Linked DNA regions of Homo sapiens: region 2 is linked to region 1. The links come from fine-mapping of genetic effects on plasma protein levels. Region 1 holds a variant in brackets. A gene starts in the other region. All regions are shown on their reverse strands.

Region 1 (9,609 bases):
ATAGCTAATGAAATCAGTTTTTAAAAGCAAAAGAAAACACATTAATGCTAACTTTTAAAACATTTAGAAATAGTAATTTTTTAAAATTTTAATTTATTTATTTTTTTTAGACCAAGTCTCACTCTGTTGCCCAGGCTGGAGTGCAGTGGCATGATCTTGGCTCACTGCAACCTCTGCCTCATGGGTTCAAGCAATTCTCGTGCCTAAGCCTCCCAAGTAGCTGGGACTACAGGCCTGTGCTACCACACCCAGCTAAATTTTTGTATTTTTAGTAGAGATGGGGTTTCACCATGTTGGCCAGGCTGGTCTTGAACTCCTGACCTCAGGTGATCTGCCCGCCTCGGCCTCCCAAAGTGCTAGGATTACAGGCGTGAGCCACCGCACCCAGCCAAAAATTTTAACTATTTTAAAAAAAACCTCAAAGTTGTTTTCTACAAAGACTTCACATTCAATTATGCTACTTCCCTTTAAACACTTCTGAAACTTCTCTCTTGGACCTATCTTCAAAGTCAGTGCATGCTTCTGAACCTGTCTGATGGTAGCAAATTTTTAAGTAGCAAGTAGATATAATTTTTGGAAATAGCCCAAGGTTGCCCAGAAGCAAGTCCAGCAAAGGTAGTTGACTAACCTGGTTAAGACAACGTGTGACACAAAATTACTAAGATTGATTTCCTTAGGTGACTATTAAACTACCAAAGATAATTTCAAAAGTATATTTGAAGTCATTTTGAAATAACTCTATCATCAGTTAAGTTGAAATATATCACTCTTTTGAACATTTGTTTTAAGATATCACAAAAACAAACAATGAAGTGTGACCTCTTCTCTGTCACTCCGTGATCCACATCAAGTAAGCATCACCACAGCTACAGTGCAACATCATTATTCTTTAAAGCGAGACTTGATCAAGCGCCGTGCTTGGCGCTGAAAAGGACACTAAAAAAGTACACAATACAGTGCCTGCCCTCTAGCAGTTTCAATTGAGGAAAGAGGAGTAGGATATAAAAATTTTTTTCAGCCGGGCACAGCGGCTCATGCCTGTAATCCCAGCACTGTGGGACACCAAGGCAGGTGGATCACCTGAGGTCAGGAGTTCGAGACCAGCCTGGCCAACCTGGTGAAACCCCGTCTCTACTAAAAATACAAAAATTAGCCAGGCGTAATGGTGGGCTACTCGAGTGGCTGAGGCATAAGAATCACTTGAACCCAGGAGGCCGAGGTTGCAGTGAGCTGAGATCCCATCACTGCACTCCAGCCTGGGTGACAGAGTGAGACTCCATCTCAAAAAAAAAAGATAATAAAAATAATAATTTTTTTTATAAAATACTAACTGTATTTTGAAATTAGAAGAAAAAGCAAAAAATGAACAGTACCAGACTATTTTATGATTAAGAGTCAATAAATGGTAGAAACAAGAACAAATATTAGAAACTTTCATGGAAGACAGCATTTGCATCCTAAGGATGTACACAGGATTTGGACTACTGCCGGGCAGATGTTACAGGTTGGGAAGCAGAATGCACATGGCTTAGAGATGAGAATTATATGAGAGTGTTGATAGGACAAGAGGAAAACTCCCTTGCTGAAGTTGAAGTATTCTCATTGTGGAATTCTGGGAATTAAGTGTGGGCAGGAGGGTAGATGTACAGGTAGCAGCAGACATAACAGACTCAGGAAAGCTGGATCAAAATCCAGCAACAGGAAGAGCCAGGAAGAAACTGATCTGCAGAACACAAGAGGGCTCAGGACTGCCACAGCCACACCTGGTACCAAGAAGTAAGAGCTACAATCAAAAGGATTAGACAAACGTCTGTTTCAGAGACAGACGCCAGCATTCCTCTCCCTCACTGCGACCAGCTGGACCAGTTCGTTCCGAACCCAGCTGATATAGTTTGGGTATTTGTCCAAATCTTCTGTTGAAATATGATTCCCAGTGTTGGATGTGGGGCCTAGTGAGAGGTGTCTGGGTCATGGGGATGGATCCCTCATGAATAGCTTGGTGCCCTCCCCACAGGAATAAGTTCCCCAGAGATCTGCTTGTTCAAGAGGTCGGGAGCTCCCTCCTCTCTCGTTCCCGCTCTATGTGATAAGCCTGCCCCCACTCTGCCTTCCGCCATGACTGTAAGCTTCCTGAGCCGTCACCAGAAGCCGATGACAGCACTTATGCTTCCTGTAGTCTGCAGAACTGTAAGCCAAAATTAACCTCTTTTCTTTATAAATTACCCAGCCTCAGATACTCCTTTACAGCAACGCAAAATGGACTAATACACCAGCATACTGGAGATTTATTTTTTGGAAAGGGTAAAACAGAGTTTTTCTGTTCTGGGGAAAACTAAGTACAGCAGAGAGCTGGGATGCCATCATGAAAATAAGGACTCGAAGTTTACAGGTTAAAGCATTCAAAATCGACTTCCTTCCTAGAACTCTGACAGCATATAAACTTAGGCGGGTCACTGGCAGTTTCTCTGACCAATCTGACCCGTCAAAAGGACGGACATCAAAGGTTTTGTAAGAAAGGAGCCCCATAGGGAGACCACAGTCAACAAGCCCTATGTGTGTGCTCAGAGCTTCCAAACTGGCTTCCAGGCACTTTTCTTTTCTTTTTTTTTTTTTTTTGAGTCAGAGTCTCACTCTGTCGCCCAGGCTGTGGTACAATAGTGTCATCTCAGCTCACTGCAACCTCCACCTCCTGGGTTCAAGTGATTCTCATGCCTCAGCCTCCTGTGTAGCTGGAATTACAGGCGCCCACCACCACACCGGGCTAATTTTTGTATTTTTAGTAGATGAGGGGTTTCATCATGTTGGCCAGGCTGCTTTCAAACTCTTGACCTCAAGTGATCCGCCTGTCTCGGGCTCCCAAAGTGCTGTGATTACAGGTGTGAGCCACTGTGCCAGGCTCCAGTCACTTCTTGAATATGAACAGGCTGTTAATGATCACCAAAAATAGAATCAACCCATTAAATTTTGGAATACTGGGGCTTGTGGCAGATGAGGATGTGGTATGCGAAGTTAAAATTAAGAATTTACAGCTTCCAGAGAAGAAAGAAAAAAGATTCTGGCAATTGAAACTCAGAATGACACTGACAGTCAGCACACAAAGGAAAAATGCTTTCAGAATTCTGATGGAAAATAATTTTCTTTCTTTTTTTCCTGCACCCAATCATCCATTAGGAAAATAATTTTCAAAAATAAAGCTATACCCACCCAAGCTATTGAAGGACGGCAGAACACGCCACCCCAAAATGTGCTGTTTTGGCACAAAGGTTTCCAGCTAAAGGGACTTCAACACAGCAGACCCAGCAAGACTGTTCTGACATCCCCCTTCCTCCTGAAAGCAGAAGACACAACTCCCACATGAATAATACCCTTCCTTTTCCAGGAGAAAACAAACATTTTTATCACCAATATGGGGAGTCAAAGCCAAAGAATTTGGTACAAACAGACCTTCTTAAAATAATTCTTATCTTCCTTTAGCCTCCGCATACATTTTACTTTTCTGTAACTGTCTCCCTTTGTTCAATGTAGTATAAAAGTATATAGGTTTCACACTTCTTTGAGTTTTCATTTACTCATGTGGGCTCCTGTGTCATGTAAAACTTAGATTAAATAAATGTGTATGTTTTCCTCCTGTTCATCGGGCTTATGCCTATTTCATTCTCAGGCCTAGCTGAGGACCCTGAGGGCAGAGGTGAGGTCCCGCCTTCCCACGCTGTCAGCAGGCGTCACGGTGGAAACTAGCTGAGGACCCTGAGGGCAGAGGTGAGGTCCCGCCTTCCCACGCTGTCAGCAGGCGTCACATCACGGTGGAAACTAGCTGAAGACCCTGAGGGCAGAGATGAAGTCCCGCCTTCCCACGCTGTCAGCAGGCGTCACAGTGGAACAGTGATGCTTTCAGACATGCAAGTCTCAACATTGTTCTCCGTCACATACTCCTCAAATCTCCACTAGAAGATATGTTCCATTAAAATAAAAAAAATCCAAAAAAGAATATGACACAAAATCCATGAAGGAGGGGATCCAATATGAGAGAGACAGAGGGACCAGAGGGACCTCCAGGATGATCCTGACTCGAGATCCCAAGATGCCAGCTGTGCTGCCAACATAAGGATTATATAGTCGAGATTAGCACAGGCCAGAAATGTCCAGAAGAGATTTCCTCAAGATGAAATGGATAGAATACCTCAGGTATCTGGTTCTACTGAAAGGAGATGAGCCCAACTGGGAGAAGAGCTTAGAATTGAATTAGTGCTAAATACAAAGAAAACTAATTGCAAAAAAACAAGGTCTTAAATCCAGAGAAAACGAAATACTGGGGAGAACGGGGAAGTAATGATTGCATGCTACCAGGCGCCACGTCTGCATAGTCCTGGTAATGTAAACAGTGAATACGTATTTATCCATAATCACCACTGGGAGGATGGGAAACAAGAAGTGTACGATGGGGAAAGAGGAAGTGAACACAGCAAGAGGACGAGGCGAACCAACTAAATTCTTATTTTCCAAAGTCAACAGCTAACATTTGAAATTCAAACCTTATGAAAGAATAATATAAGCTTTTTAAAAATAAAAAAGCAGGCCAGGTGCAGTGGCTCACGCCTGTAATCCCAGCACTTTGGGAGGCCCAGGCAGGCAGATCACTTGAGGTCAGGATTTTGAGACCAGCCTGGCCAACATGGTGAAACCCTGTCTCTACTAAAAATAAAAAAAAACAGCTAGGCATGGTGGCGGGCGCCTATAATCCCAGCTACTTGGGAGGCTGAGGCAGGAGAATCACTTGAACCTGGGAAGCGGAGGTTGCAGTGAGCCGAGGGATCATGCCACCTGCACTCCAGCCTGGGAGACAGAACAAGAATCTATCTCAAAAAAGTAATAATAATAAAAAAAAATAAGAAAGCAAATAGTAAGTCTCCCCTGACTCCTCCACCCCCAACAAAACAACAACTAAGAATTGAAAGTGAAGACTCTGGGAAGAAGTAATAAACATTAGGGAAGTAATAACAGAGGCTCTAGTTTTTTGTGTGTTTTTCTGTTTGTTTGTTTGTTTTTACATGTAGTCTCACTCCATTGCCCGGGCTGGAGTGCAGTGGTGCGATCTTGGCTCACTGCAACCTCCATCTCCCAGGTTCAAGCGATTCTCATGCCTCAGCCACCTGAATATCTGGGATCACAGGCAGGCGGCCACCATGCCCGGCTAATTTTTGTATTTTTAGTAGAGACAGGGTTTCACCATGTTGCCTGGGCTGATCTCGAACTCCTGACCTCAAGTGTTAGCCTCAGCCAACCAAAGTGCTGGGATTACAGGCATGAGTCACAGCGCCTGGCCTGAGGCTGTAGTTTTTTGGAAGCAGACAACAAATTTGTTTCAAACTATTTGCATGTA[A/T]AAGTTTGATCAAAACTAAAATTTTAAAAGGATCAACGTGGTCATGGAAGTAAGATGAGAGGAGGGAAATTAGTTAGGAAACTGTGAAGTGATAATGGCTTGAACTATGAAGGTAAACCTAAAATAAAATAGATATAAGAGATTTCAATAGGAGAGTAATCTAAAGACTTAGTCTGTATTGACCGTCTTTATAGAACAGAGAGTAGAAAATGATCATTCTGGTTTCTAATTAGAGAGACTGGGACCAGTGCTGGAAGCAACACAGCCGAAATGCAGCGTTGTTGAGAGAGGGCTCCTAAACTGGATTTTGGAGGAACTGAATTCAGAATGATCAAAGTACAACCAAATGTACTTGAGACGTCCACAGCCAGTTCAGACATGGGGCTGGAATGATGTAAGATGATACTAAGAACGACTCTTTAATACACACCACAGAACAGTATGTGTAACTTGATACTATTGGTGTAAAAAATGAAACAAAAATATAAATTTGTGCCTGCACAGAGTTTATCTTTAGAAGGATGCAAGAAACTGGTAATATTACTTCCCTCCGAAGGGAGAAGTGAGTGACTAAAAGACGGGGCTGGGAAAGGCTTTTCCTGTACCCTGTACATTCTTTTGCATCTTTTGAATTTTTCACCATGTGAATTGCTGACTTATTTAATCAATATATAAATTACTTAAAAATTTATATTAAAAGGTGCCATCAGCACAAAAGGTGATATGATAAGGTCCATGATCTCAGTTTCATCAGGGAAAAACATGTTAAGAACACAAAGGGTTGACATGAAAACACACGCTTAAAGGTCTCTTTTGTACAGAGATAATACAGTTTCCCTTTGAACTTTCACCTGAAGTATTTCATCCCACTTTTTATTTCATTTATTCTTATTTATGTTAGTCTCAGCAATTATTTAGCCACAGATAGCCAATCTTTAACTTATAACAAAGTCCATTTCAACAACTCATTTATCTTATGGACGAATATCCTACAGGTGTCAAAGCCCACAGAATGTAGAACACCCAGAGTGAACCCTAATGTGAACATGGACTTCGGATGATGATGTCGGTTCATCGAAACACCCAGAGTGAACCCTAATGTGAACATGGACTTCGGATGATGATGTCGGTTCATTGAAAACACCCAGAGTGAACCCTAATGTGAACATGGACTTTGGATGATGATGTGGGTTCATCGATTGTACCAAAAATGCCTCTGTGGTACAGGATGCTGACGGTGCGGAAGGCCACGAGTGTGTGGAGCAGGGGTATATGGGAACTCTCTGTACCTTCCACTTAAATTTGTTGTGAACCTAAAATTGCTCTAAAAAATAAAGTCTATTAATAATAATAAAAAAGAAACCTCAAAATAACACCAAAAACCCCTCAACAACAACAACAAAAAACCTAGTTTGGTAGTTCCTAAAAAAGCTAAACATAGAATTGCCATATGATACAGCAATTCTACTGCTGAGTAGACTGAAAATAGGGACTCAGACAGATACGCGGAAGCCAGTGTTCGCTGCAGCAAGACTCCAATAGCCAAGAGGTGGACACAAACGACCTAAGTGTCCATCAACTGATTCAAAACGTGACAGATCCATACAATGGAGTGTTATTGAGACATAAAGGAACACCGTAAGGAATACTGTTCTGATACATGGCACAATGTGGATGAACCCTGAGAATGCCACGCTAAGTAAAAGGAGTCAGGTACAAAAGGACAAACATGGTATGATTCTACTTATAAGGACTATCTAGATTAGGCAAATCCACAGAGAGAGGACGTAGAATAGAGGCTGTCAGGGCTGGGGGAGGAGGAAGAGGGAGGGATTGTTTAGTGAGTACAGAGTTTCTGAGACGCTCGGTGGCAATGTGCATGACAACGTGAATGTATTTAGTGCCACTTAACTATACACGTAAAAACAGTTAAAATGGAAATGTTTATGTTATATATATTTTGCCACAATTTTAAGAAAAAAAAGCCCAGTGATCCCTCCCTTTCTCCTTTCCCCTTCCTCAAAAGCAATTACGTCTAAAGCCGTTAAGTGAGGCAAGGTAGGTGATCTGTTTGGAGGGGTGGGGGAGGTGTGTGACCGGGAGGTCACGCAGAGTTGGCCGGGTGACGAGGGTAATGGGAGTGGGAGAAAGTGGACGGGATGTGGATAGATCAGATGAGTAAACATGCTGAGATGACAGCAGCTGGACTTCTCACTGTTGGTGAAGGAAGTACATATGTGAAAAGGTGGAAAACTAAAATAAATGCTTTGGTATCAGACAAGGTCTCCAACCGATGGAATCAAACCAACCTTACTGATGCAAACTCATGATTACTTACACACACACACACGCACTCACAGGAGAGTGTACTGATACATATACATACATTTCCTACCTTACTAAGAGGGCCTGATGAGCTGGTATTCCCAATTCCCAAATGTTATTATCAATGACAATCAACAGTATAATTACCACCCAGATCTTAGTCTCTAACACCACACTCCACTAAAAGCAATGAACAGTATAATTAGCGCCCAGATCTTAGTCTCTAACACCAAACACTCCACCAAAAGCAATCAACAGTATAATTACCGCCCAGATCTTAGTCTCTAAACACCATACTCCATTAAAAGTAACTAGGGGCCTCTGGAGAAACGGTTAATTCCACGTCAGGGGTAGACAAAGAACAAAGTGAGCTTAGAATATCTTGTTACAGAAAGAAAAGAAATATTCGGCCAGGACTGGTGGCTCATGCTTATAATCCCAGCACTTTGGGAGGCTGAGGCAGGAGGATCAGTTTAGGCCAGGAGTTTGAGACCAGCCTGGTCAATTTTTGTACTAAAAATACAAAAATTAGCTGGGTATGGTGGCGCATGCCTGTGATTCCAGCTGTGCAGGAGGCTGAGGCACAAGAATCTCTGGAACCGGGAGGTGGAGGTTGCAGAGAGCTGAGATCGCACCACTGCACTCCAGCCTGGGTGACAGAGTAAGACCCTGTCTCAAAAGAGGAAAAATGAAAAAAAAAGTTAATTTTACATAAATTGTATGGTATGTAAAATATATCTTGATAGTGCTATTACCAGGTCAGGCAAAGTGGCTCATGTCTGTAGTCCCAGCACTTTGGGAGGCTGAGGCAGGTGAATCACATGAACCCAGGAGTTCAAGACCAGCCTGAGTAGCATGGCAAAAGCCTGTCTCTACAAAAAATAAGAAAAATCAGCCAGGTGTGGTGGTGTGCACCTGTAGTCCCAGCTTCTCAGATGGCTGAGGTGGGAGAATCGCCTGAGCCTGGGAGTTCGTGGCTGCAGTGAGCGTGATCGCACCATTGTCTCTAGCCTGGGTGACAGAGCAAAACCCTGTCTCAAAAAAAAACAGAAAAGAAGAAAAGCAGTTACCAAAAAAAACGTTAATTTGATAAGTAACTAATGATAAGAGTTAAATTTCCAGTTCTAAAGGTCCGTTTAGCTCTTGCAGCTGAAATGGCACAGGAATGCTGATTCTGCATTTCTCAGGCTTACGCTGTCCTCCCTGACATCCATTTGTAGGGTGCAGAAGATTCATTCCATTGGATGCTCCTAAGTCACAGAATGGCTACATCTTTATAAGTCCTTAATAAGGTGATGTCATATAATATCAGATGTGCAAATAAGATAATTAAGGAAATAGTAGGCGAGGCATGGTGGCCGCCATCTATAATCCCAGTACTTTGGGAGGCCAAGGCAAGAGGATTGCTTGGGCCCCGAAGTTCTAATCTAGCCTGGGCAACATAGTGAGACCTCTTCTCTACAAAAAATCAAACACTTAGTCGGGTGTGTGGTGCACACTGTAGTCCCAGCTCCTCAGGAGGCTGAGGTGGGAAGGTCGCTTGAACCCAGGAGGTAGAGGATATAATGAGCCGTGACTGCAGCAGCACTCCAGCCTAGCTGACAGAGCAAGACCTTGTCTCAAAAAAAAGAAAAAGAAAAAGGAAAAAAAATTGTAGTTTGCCCTTTTTGGATTTCTAATTACAAAGGAAAAAACACTCTATTATTAATCAGCAACTGATTTATTCTTTTTCCTTTATTTTTTGGAGACAGGGTCTCGCTTTGTTGCCTAGGATGGTCTCGAATCCTGGGCTCAAGCAATCCTCCTGGCTCAGCCTCCCAAAGTGCTGGGATTACAGGCGTGAGCCACCACGTCCAGCCTGATTTACTAATTCTTATAACCCATGAGGTCCTCAGACCTTTTGA
Region 2 (9,595 bases), not on the chromosome of region 1:
TACACACACACACAGAGGCAAACACACAAATACATATATAATTCCACATCACATTGATGCATTAAACTTTTTGTGAAAATTATTTTACGTGTTAAATTATGTTAAATTATGGGTAGCAGCTACTGTGTTTAGACAGCTTAGAAGTCCAGAAGTAGAAGGAACAGTTGGAAAATAATCAGACGAATCCAGCTGACTGACATATCTATCATGGAAACAAAAAAAAAATGCACTACAATAGGAAGTGGCTGTCTTTATTTTTCAAACTAATATTGTTCTTTGATGAGCTACAGAGTGCATTTGTTTAAGCAGTTGTTGGAAAGCAGACCCTGCATGGTAGACTGGAAAGAACATTGGACTAGAACTGGGAAAATCAGCCATGTGACCTTGTTAAGATAGGGACATTCGTTTTCTATAGCCTCAGTTTCCTCATCTGTAAAATGGCCATAAAAATTCCAATTCTGCTTATTTCATAAAGATGATGTGATCAACTCCCTCACTTCACACATGAGGAAACTCTCTTGAGGTCATATAGCTAATTGGTGACAGTATCAGGACTCAACATAAAAGTCTTTTGAAGACTTGGACTTTCTGTAGTAACAAAGCTGCCATTGAAGCAACAGATAGGAAAGTGCTTTGAAAAATGTCACATAAGGGTTTTGTTCAGTAGAAGTAATAGGACTATATCTGCCAAAGTCATTTTGTGGCAATTAATTAGGAAATGCCTTTTGAGACTGTACCTGTACCTTCAGATACAACCATCTTTATTTTAAAATCAAATACACTCTATTTCATTTCTCAACAATGACACTAGAAGTAAACAATTAACTGAATTAATTCAAACACTGAAGTGGATTTTCAAGGACTTGACTTGCCCAAGCTAGTTTTCTACAAAGCCTAAATTAATCAGATAATTGCTAATTCTCCCCTTTGTTTTGTGCTGAGGAGAGCCTGTATTTGTTAAAATGATCCTAGTAGCAGGATAAACAGTCATTTTAAAAATTTTAAAATCCAAATCTGAACTAAATGAGCAAGTTTCAGACACACTATTTCTTTAGGCACCATCTCCAGTCATTGTTTTAAAAGGCTAATTTTCTTTATCTGAATGTGAACATTAATACCACTTTTGTGATTAAAAGGAAGATTTTAAGCAAACAAATTAAAAAAAAATCAAACTAAACCGATATTGCAGGATATTGTGAACATGATTTGTTGTACTCTTAGAAAAAAAAAGCAAATGCCTCTCCTGGCATGACTAAAAACAGCAGTTAAATCTTTAAGATTAAGTTATTAATGACACACTTTAAAAATATAATCAGTTTAGCATGGCTTTAAATAACCTCCACTTAACAACTAGCAAAGTTTTAAAATTAAATAAACAATGCTAATTACCCTTCTAGTATCAAGAGGAAAGTGTAGAAAGTAATTTAATTAATTGGCTGTGAAAAATTAATTACTTATGAAATGAGACTCATTAGACCTTTCCTGTTTCATCAGAATTTCAGACTAAAGGATAACTGGTCTTATCACTTATGGTTTCTTTATGGTTCAGCTAGCATCAAATAGACTTGTGATAATAATTAAATATTTTGCCCAGATAAATTTAGGACTAGAACATTAAAAAAAAAAACATCGCGAACAAAGTAACAGTGTTACTTTTCCATTGTATTTAGTTTTTATATTTCACTGTAAAGATTTTACTGTGTGTGTGTGTGAGCGTGAGTGTGTGTGTATCATGAACTGACAAAAAAATAACAGTTAACTTTCAAATTCGGTACAGCAATATAATTTGGTTTTGTCATGTTGGGCATTAGCTAAAGTGAAAATGTGACTAAGATACTTTATGTAACATAATAACTGTTGATTACTCAGATAGTTTTCATAAACAGTTGGCAAATTTTGACTTAAAACAGCTGTCACTATAAATGTAAAGTAAATGTTAATTTAGGAATATTAACCTTGTGAATGTTTCTGTAAATAAGGCTTATGCTATTTCCAAAGGTTATAGAAAATCACTGGAGTATTTTTAGCCAAACTTAGTGCAACTTTATCCTCACTGTTTTTAAATTCTTCAGTTTTACACATAAAAGTCTTTAATCATACTTGATGGTTTTTCAGTGATTCCCTTGAGTGTACAAACTGCATAAGGAAGTGTATTTGATAGATTTACATCTTGGAAGTGAGAGAATAAATAAACTAAAGAAACAGTATTGCCAGAGATACATTTTACTCTTTTATATAAGAAAACAAAGAAAGCATTTTCAACAAGCAAAGTTGCACTGACTGTTTACTAAATAAGGTAACCTGTAAATACTTAGAGCAATTATAGCTCACAGATCTCAGGGGTTGAAGTACCAGTTGCATGCTAAAGTGAGCGCTGTTCTGTTTTGTCCTGTTTGTACAACTCATTTCCAAGTAAAATTTGTATGACAGACTGCAAACCCTCTTGTACAAACTACTAAAAATTACATCAAGTTCCATAGTTACTCTGATACACACATTCAGCATCATGTAGTATTCAGCTGTATAAATGCTTTCTAAAAAATTAATTAAAACCATTCTTTTCTCAGAACACATGCGAAAAATGCAGTGAAAGCTATAACAAAGCTTAAAACAGAGTACCTGCAACATGCTGAGCTCTTTGCAGTACTTACCCGTTCAGCAACTTAGTTTCTCCTGGCAGCACTTCTGTGCCAAATGCTTCTACCTTCCCAAAAATGTATGTCAGCACAAGCCCAGACGAAACTTCAAATCCAGGAAAATAAAATTAACCATGCAGATCAAAGGCAGACGAGCAGGGAGATGAAATGCCTGTAATCTGATCAGTGAATCAGTTGCTGAACATCAAAGGCAGGGCTGAGTTTATATATATGCATGGATATCAAAGAAAGTTCACTTTCAGCAGGTAGTTACCCTCCCACCTCCTAGTCCACAGACTCTTTTGTTAAACATGGATCACGTTGTTTTCCTCCTCTTTTTTGCAATGAGGCAATGCTGGTAGTTCTCCCATGCTTGGGCTGAGTGGCTGGATCTGTAGCTTTTTTGGTTCCCAAGCTGTGTTGTGGACTGTGTGTTGGAAGCTTTTCCTAGTGCCAGCGGGTTCTGCTTTATCCCTTTCATCTCGCTGAACTGCAGATCCCATGACATCATTCAGCGCCGTGGGACTGGTAGGAGAGCTATAATTCAGCCTGTGGGGGAGTATAGCTCAAGAGAAGCCAGAGTTTGGCTGATTTCTAATCATGTTAGACTATTGTGCCTCACACAGGACAGTTTCTGTTATCTGTCTGCCAGCTGGAAAGGACAGCAACTGCTGCTGGATGCTTCTTGGGTGATAAGATCCCTGATGGATGGACGTGCCAAATGACAGCATTTAATTGCCTCTTCGCTGATAAAAATCACAATTTCCTACAGAGACTGGGTGTCAAATATTCAGCATAGTTAAATAGCACTATGAGACCACTCTAAAAAACACCCAAGGACACTGCCAGATGGACCGATAACATTTTCACATTTTGATTCCAGTTTTCAAAGTGACAAGTCTTTAAGGATTTTAAGGAAACTGCCCTTTCTTTGAAACATACATTATTAGGATCTGATTACCAATCAAACCGGGTTGTGTTAAGTAGTTAAGCAGCAGATAACCAACAATTCATGAATAAACTGCCATCTTCCACTGGCTCACTTAAGACTTTGGGCGGAGACTTAATCTCAATCTTTGCCTTAGTTCGGGACTCTGGAAATTAGATTTTAAAGCAATATCTACTTCTTAGACATATTTCATTAATACTTGTTGAGCATTTTAAAATTCACAAAAGAAGAATTATGTAGAACAAAGCATTTGCCCTGTGATTATTCCAAAGCCATGTTATTTGCCTTTTAGGGCTGTTTCTTCCGAACTCATAGTTTGGACTTTCAACTCACTAAAAAATTACCACCTTAGCCTAATTCTTCGTATTTTAAAATTAAATATATTGCTCATTATTTAAAAATTTTAAGCTATTTTCCTTAACAATGTCAGATTCAATACAATATGATTATTTTATTTTGAGTATTTAGTAAAATAGAAGATAAGAAGAAGTTTCATCTTCCTTGAAATCCAGGATATGGTGCTTTTCTGATTTTCAGACAGTTCTTTCATGGAATGAAGACAATTTTTCTATTTTATAATGGAAACTCACTAACTTTTAGAAAGTAAGTTAAAAATATTTTTGCAAAACTTAGGGGATAGTAGAACTCAGTCTTTTTCAATGTAACTTCCCTCCTTAACTGGTTTTGTCTAATTTTTCCTGACGCGATATTTGAAAACGTTATTTATGAAGTGTTTATTTCCAGATTTCTATGATTCTTGAATAATTTTAATAGCAAAATATTTAGTTTGAACTGTTCATAAGTTCTGTATAACATTTAAATAGTCCTGTTGATTTTTCCATGTTTCTTGTATAATTTTTCTACTTATACATCATTTCTCAAAAATGCACAGGGCTCAAATAGTATTTGAACTGGCAGGTGTGATGCTTAAGGACTTCCTTAAAGCAGACCAGGAAAATTCCTGTGACATCTGGGCTTCACATACGTTTCCTGGGCATCTTGAACCCATGAATACAAAGAAAATATTTACAAAGACAAAATATTTACAAGAAGGCATGTGCCCATTTCTTTTCTGAGGTAGTCCAAACCTACCACCAGCATGGAATCCATATGCCAACAGCCTGCACTCAGGATTAAAGTTTCCCGATACACTGATATATTAAATCAGAGCAACTAGACACTCTGTAAGGCTCATTGGCTAAGCAAGTAGATTTTATGTCTTTATAGATTTCAACACCAGTAGAAATAGGTGAAGGACTGAATTCGGGTTCTTGTGTTCCACTGAAAAACATACAGGAGGCACTTGAAAGCAGGGACTTGAATGAAAACCAATCAAATGATCTTCAATTTATACAAATCTCCCCAAGCAAGCTTTGTAGTTCAAGATACATCCAACAATGCAATACCATCTCCAGTGGAAGAGTTTATTCACCAAGTCACTGGATATTATTTTGAATTGGTCCTCTTGTGGCCAAGAACTCCCCATATGTGAGATGAAAGGGGACTGAGGCTAGGGCCCCATCTGTCGCCTGGACCAGAGTGTGGCTAAAGGTCGGCCTGGCTGCAGGAGTGACCTCTTGACCTGCGGCTCATTTAGCACTGTGCCCAGCCAGCCGAGCCCCCTTCGTTGTGAGGTGTGGCCTGCACCATTGTTGTTTCTGAACAGCACCAGGAAGGGGAGCTACTACAAAGCTTTTCTCTTTCCCCTTCAAGAAGCTTAGATTAGTGTGATTAAATCAGTGTGATACAGTGGTGATAAGAGATCCAGCACTCCACTCGACATCATTGTCCGTTGTCATGACACCAAGTTACAGCATTTGATCAATGGTTCCTGTGCCATGTTGCAGTACACTTGGCTCATCTTAGTCTTTTTGTCAAGCTGCCTTTCAGCGACCTGGTTCTGCAAAGTGGTTGTGGCAGCCATTGGATCCACAGTGGGGAGCTCCAGGCTACACTTTAAAAGAAGTGGTCAGTGTTTGAGATGACGGGCATGCCAGTTACCCTGATCTGATCACTATACCTTATAGGTATAGAAATGTCACTAGGTGCCCAGGGATATGTATAATTATTATTAATCAGTTAAAAAATAAAATAAATGATTGAGAAAACTTCAGTTGTTCATATCCAAGAAGGGAGGGGCTGCCTGAGATTCCTGATGGGGAGTGGGGTCTCATGTCACCCCCAGTCGCCACCATGTGCTATTTTCTTCCCAAAACTTGGAGCGTGGTTCCTTTGCTCCTTTATCTTGACAGGTGGATGCCATGAATTCTCACCATTTTAAGATATAGATCAGGTGATAACACATTTTCCCCATAAAGTTTCATAGTTTTTTGAGTTGTCTGCATGTCTTTTCTAATGCCGTCTTTTCTAACTTTTCTGTTCAGAGGATATATCCTGGATTAGATCAGATAAACACAGATCTATTACATACATTGAGAGGAATAATTTCTGCATTTGTTTCAACTGAACACTTTTTAGAAAATGAAATAGCTCATGGTTATGAAAAGAACACGGATGCTGGAGTCAGAAAGGCCTATGTTCAAATCCCTCTTACTACCTGTACTTGAATAACAGCTTAGGCAGTGTGGACGAAGGCTACCTAGTCCCACTGAGCTTTTTAATCCTAAGCTGCAGGAAGGGGATAACACCTACCTCATTAGTGTTGCCAAAATAACAAACTTATTTCGAAAGCATCAGGCAGAATAAACCCTCAACAGAAGAGCTAAGGTTCCTTTCTTTTCTCTGTAACTATTAAAATGCCAACATTTTAGCTAGGGGATCCAATTCAAACTTCAGTATTCTAAAGGGGCAGGACAGGCTCTCACACAGCTCCTGGGCTGGTTATTCAAAGCCAAGGTAGCCCAGACATCCTCAGGTCCTTCACAATGCTGGGACCACTTGTACATGATCTGGGACCAGTAGCTGCTATCTGGGACTGTGGTCCACATAATCACAGAAAGAAAAAGGCTCAAGCCTGTTATGGGTTGGATTGTATCCCCCTAAATTCCCATGTTGATGTCTTGTCTCCCAGCACCTCAAAACATGAGCTTATCTGGAGATAGGGTCTTTACAGGGGTAATCAAGTTCAAATGTGGTCATTAGGGTGGGCCCCAACCCAGAATGACTGATGTCCCCATAAAAAGGGAGATTTAGATAAAGAGGCAGACACTCATATAGGTAGAACACTGTGTGGACATGAGGATGACCATCTACAAGCCAGGGTAAGAGGCCGGGAACAGACCTGTCCCTCACAGCCTCAGAAGGAACCAACCCTGCTGATACCTTGATCTCTGACTTCCAGCCCCCAGAACTGTGCGAGGACATACTGCTGCTGTTGAAGTCTGTGGTACTTTGTTATCACAGCCTCAAGAAACTAATACAAAGCCACTATCCAACAAACTACAAAGAGGTACAACTCCCATTTTCCTACATATTCTGAAGCCTTACATTCTCCTCATCAGCATCTGCCTCCTACAAAGCACCCCCAGCTCCAGTGGACACCCCCTGCCCTTCTGGACTCCCTCCGACCTCGTGAGCAGAAGACGCCTTCCTTTTCTTAAAGGGCCAGTTCAGGGGTACTGTTCAGTGAAGCTGAGTATGACTGAAAGTCACTAAAGGTAACTGGGATAGAACCCAGTTTCTGGCTACTGTAAATAAAGCTGCCATGAACACTTCATGAACCTGAAAGAGCCAATCCTTCCAAATGGATCCTGAGTGGCTAACTGGGTCTAAATTCAGAATGGAGCCAGGTCACAAACGTCTTCTGCATTCTCTGAGAAACCACAGGCTCGCGTGATTTGGGGACTTTCATGGCTGTCTGCTCCTATTTATGCTCCCTGATTTGATGGGTGCTGGGAAGTCTCATCTTGACTTCTGGATCTAACAAATAGACTTGTGACTTGCATTGACCAATCAAAACCAAACATACTTGCATCCCTCTCACTTGCAGAGCAGACCAGAGTGGGAATCTGGGTGGGAGCTTTTTCTATAAAGGATAACCTGTCTCTCTGTTCTCAGGGAGAGCATCTTTGTTTTGTACTGAAGGCTGGGTCTCCCTGGTTTGCAAACTGCTTACAGGAATAAAATCATTCTCTTTTTTAAGGAAGATCCTTTTCAGTGGATTTGTTGATAATACTTGTGTACAAGTCTTAGTGTGGATATATATTTTCATTTTTGTTAAGTAAATATGTAGGAGTAGAATTTCTGGATTATATGGTGTATGTATGTTTAACTTCAAAAGAAACTGCTGGCTGGGCGTGGTGGCTCATGCCTGTAATCCCAGCACTTTGGGAGGCCGAGGTGGGTGGATCACAAGGTCAGGAGATCAAGACCATCCTGGCTGGCACGGTGAAACCCCGTCTCTACTAAAAATACAAAAAATTAGCTAAGCGTGATGGCGGGTGCCTGTAGTCCCAGCTACTCGGGAGGCTGAGGCAGGAGAATGGCATGAACCCATGAGGCGGAGGTTGCAGTGAGCCGAGATTGCGCCACTGCACTCCGGCCTGGGCAACAGAGAGAGACTCCGTCTCAAAAAAAAAAAAAAAAAAAGAAACTGCCAAATTGTTGTCTCAAGTGTTTGTTCCAGTTTACATTCCTGTTGGCAATATAGGAGATTTCCATTTGCTCTACATCCTTGGCAAAACTTGATATTGTCAATTTTTGTCATTTCAGCTATTTAAATGCAGTCTAATAGTAGCTTATGATAGTTTAAATTTGCATTTTGTTGATGCTAGCACTCAATTTATATATAGAGAGACACTTTACTTTTTAGAACAGTTTTAGATTGACAGAAAGATTGAGCAGCTACTACAGAGATTTCCCATACATTCCCTGTGCCCCACTCAGCTTCCCCTAGTATTTGCATCTTGCATCACTGTGATATATTTGTAATAATTAATGAATCAATATAGGTGCATTATTAACTAGAGTTCATAGTTTACACTAAAATTCATTCTTTCTGCATATACTTCTATGGATTTTTTTTTTTTTTTTTTTTTAGATAGAGTCTTGCTCTGTCACCCAGGCTGGAGTGCAGTGGCGTGATCTTGGCTCACTGCAACCTCTGCCTCCCAGGTTCAAGCGATTCTCCTGCCTCAGCCTCCCGAGTAGCTGGGATTACAGGTGTGAGCCACCACTCTCAGCTAATTTTTGTATTTTTAGTAGAGATGGGGTTTTGCCATGTTGGCCAGGATGGTCTTGAACTCCTGACCTCAAGTGATCTGCCTGCCTTGGCCTCCCAAAGTGCTGATGTGAGCCACCGCACCTAGCCAGACTTCTATGGATTTTGCCTAATATATAATAACATGTGTTCACCATTACAGTTTTGTACAGAGTAGTTTCACTGCTGTAAAAATCCCCTGTGCTCCACCTATTCATCCCTCCTTCCCCTAGAGCCCCTGGCAACCACTGATGTTTCTAAAGTCTCTATAGTTTTGCCTTTTCCATAATGTTATATAGGTAGAATTATATGGTATGTAGTCTTTTCTGATTGGCTTCTTTCTTAGCAGTATGCATTTAACTTTCTTCTATGACTTGCTGTGACTTGATAGCTCGTTTCTTTTTATTGTTAAGTATTCCATTGTCTGTATATAGTTTATCATTCACCTATTGAAGGACATCTTGGTTGCTTCCAGTTTTTGTGATTATGAATGAAGCTTCTATAAACATTCATGTGTAGGTTTTTGTGAGACTATAAGTTTTCCCTAGGAGCATGATTGCTGGATCATGTGGTAAGACTGCAGTTAACTTTTAAAGAAACTGCCAAACTGTCCTCCAGAGTGACAACAACATTTTGCATTTCCACCAGCAATGAATGGCAGTTCCTGTTGCCCTGCAGCCTTGTCAGCATTTTGGGTTATCAGTTGCTGTTGATGATGTTTTTAATTTTAGCCACACTAATAGGTGTGTAGTGGTATCTGTTTTAATTTGTAATTCCCTAATGATGTATGGTGTTGGGCATATTTTCATATGCTTATTTATCATCTTATATCTTCTTTGGTGAGGTGCCTGT

Which allele goes with the higher level. Positions count from the first base shown, and alleles are read on the strand shown. Strength reflects both the effect of a copy and how common the allele is.
In carriers of allele T in region 1, the plasma level of the protein whose gene starts at base 3,088 in region 2 tends to be higher than with A alone (weak association).

The links. A credible set is the group of variants that fine-mapping cannot tell apart. PIP is the chance, under the fine-mapping model, that this variant and not a neighbour inherited with it causes the effect. The UK Biobank Pharma Proteomics Project read protein levels with antibody pairs (Olink). The fine-mapping took linkage between variants from a reference panel, not from the people measured, so its PIPs are less certain.
Region 2: TNFRSF19 starts here. The variant in region 1 is the best candidate, but not a certain one, in a credible set for the plasma level of the TNFRSF19 protein (UK Biobank, PIP 0.51).

Annotation. Positions count from the first base shown.
Region 1 is chr3:198,025,109-198,034,717 of GRCh38, reverse strand. The region is part of intron 15 of LMLN (leishmanolysin like peptidase); the gene reads right to left. Among named protein-coding and RNA genes, the nearest start is that of LMLN-AS1, 9.6 kb to the left of the region's middle. The variant A/T (reference allele first, on the strand shown) is at 5,381.
Region 2 is chr13:23,563,905-23,573,499 of GRCh38, reverse strand. It overlaps TNFRSF19 (TNF receptor superfamily member 19), which reads right to left and starts at 3,088. Exons shown (of 10, transcript NM_148957.4): 1 at 2,652-3,088. RefSeq lists enhancers at 4,653-5,164, 5,165-5,677.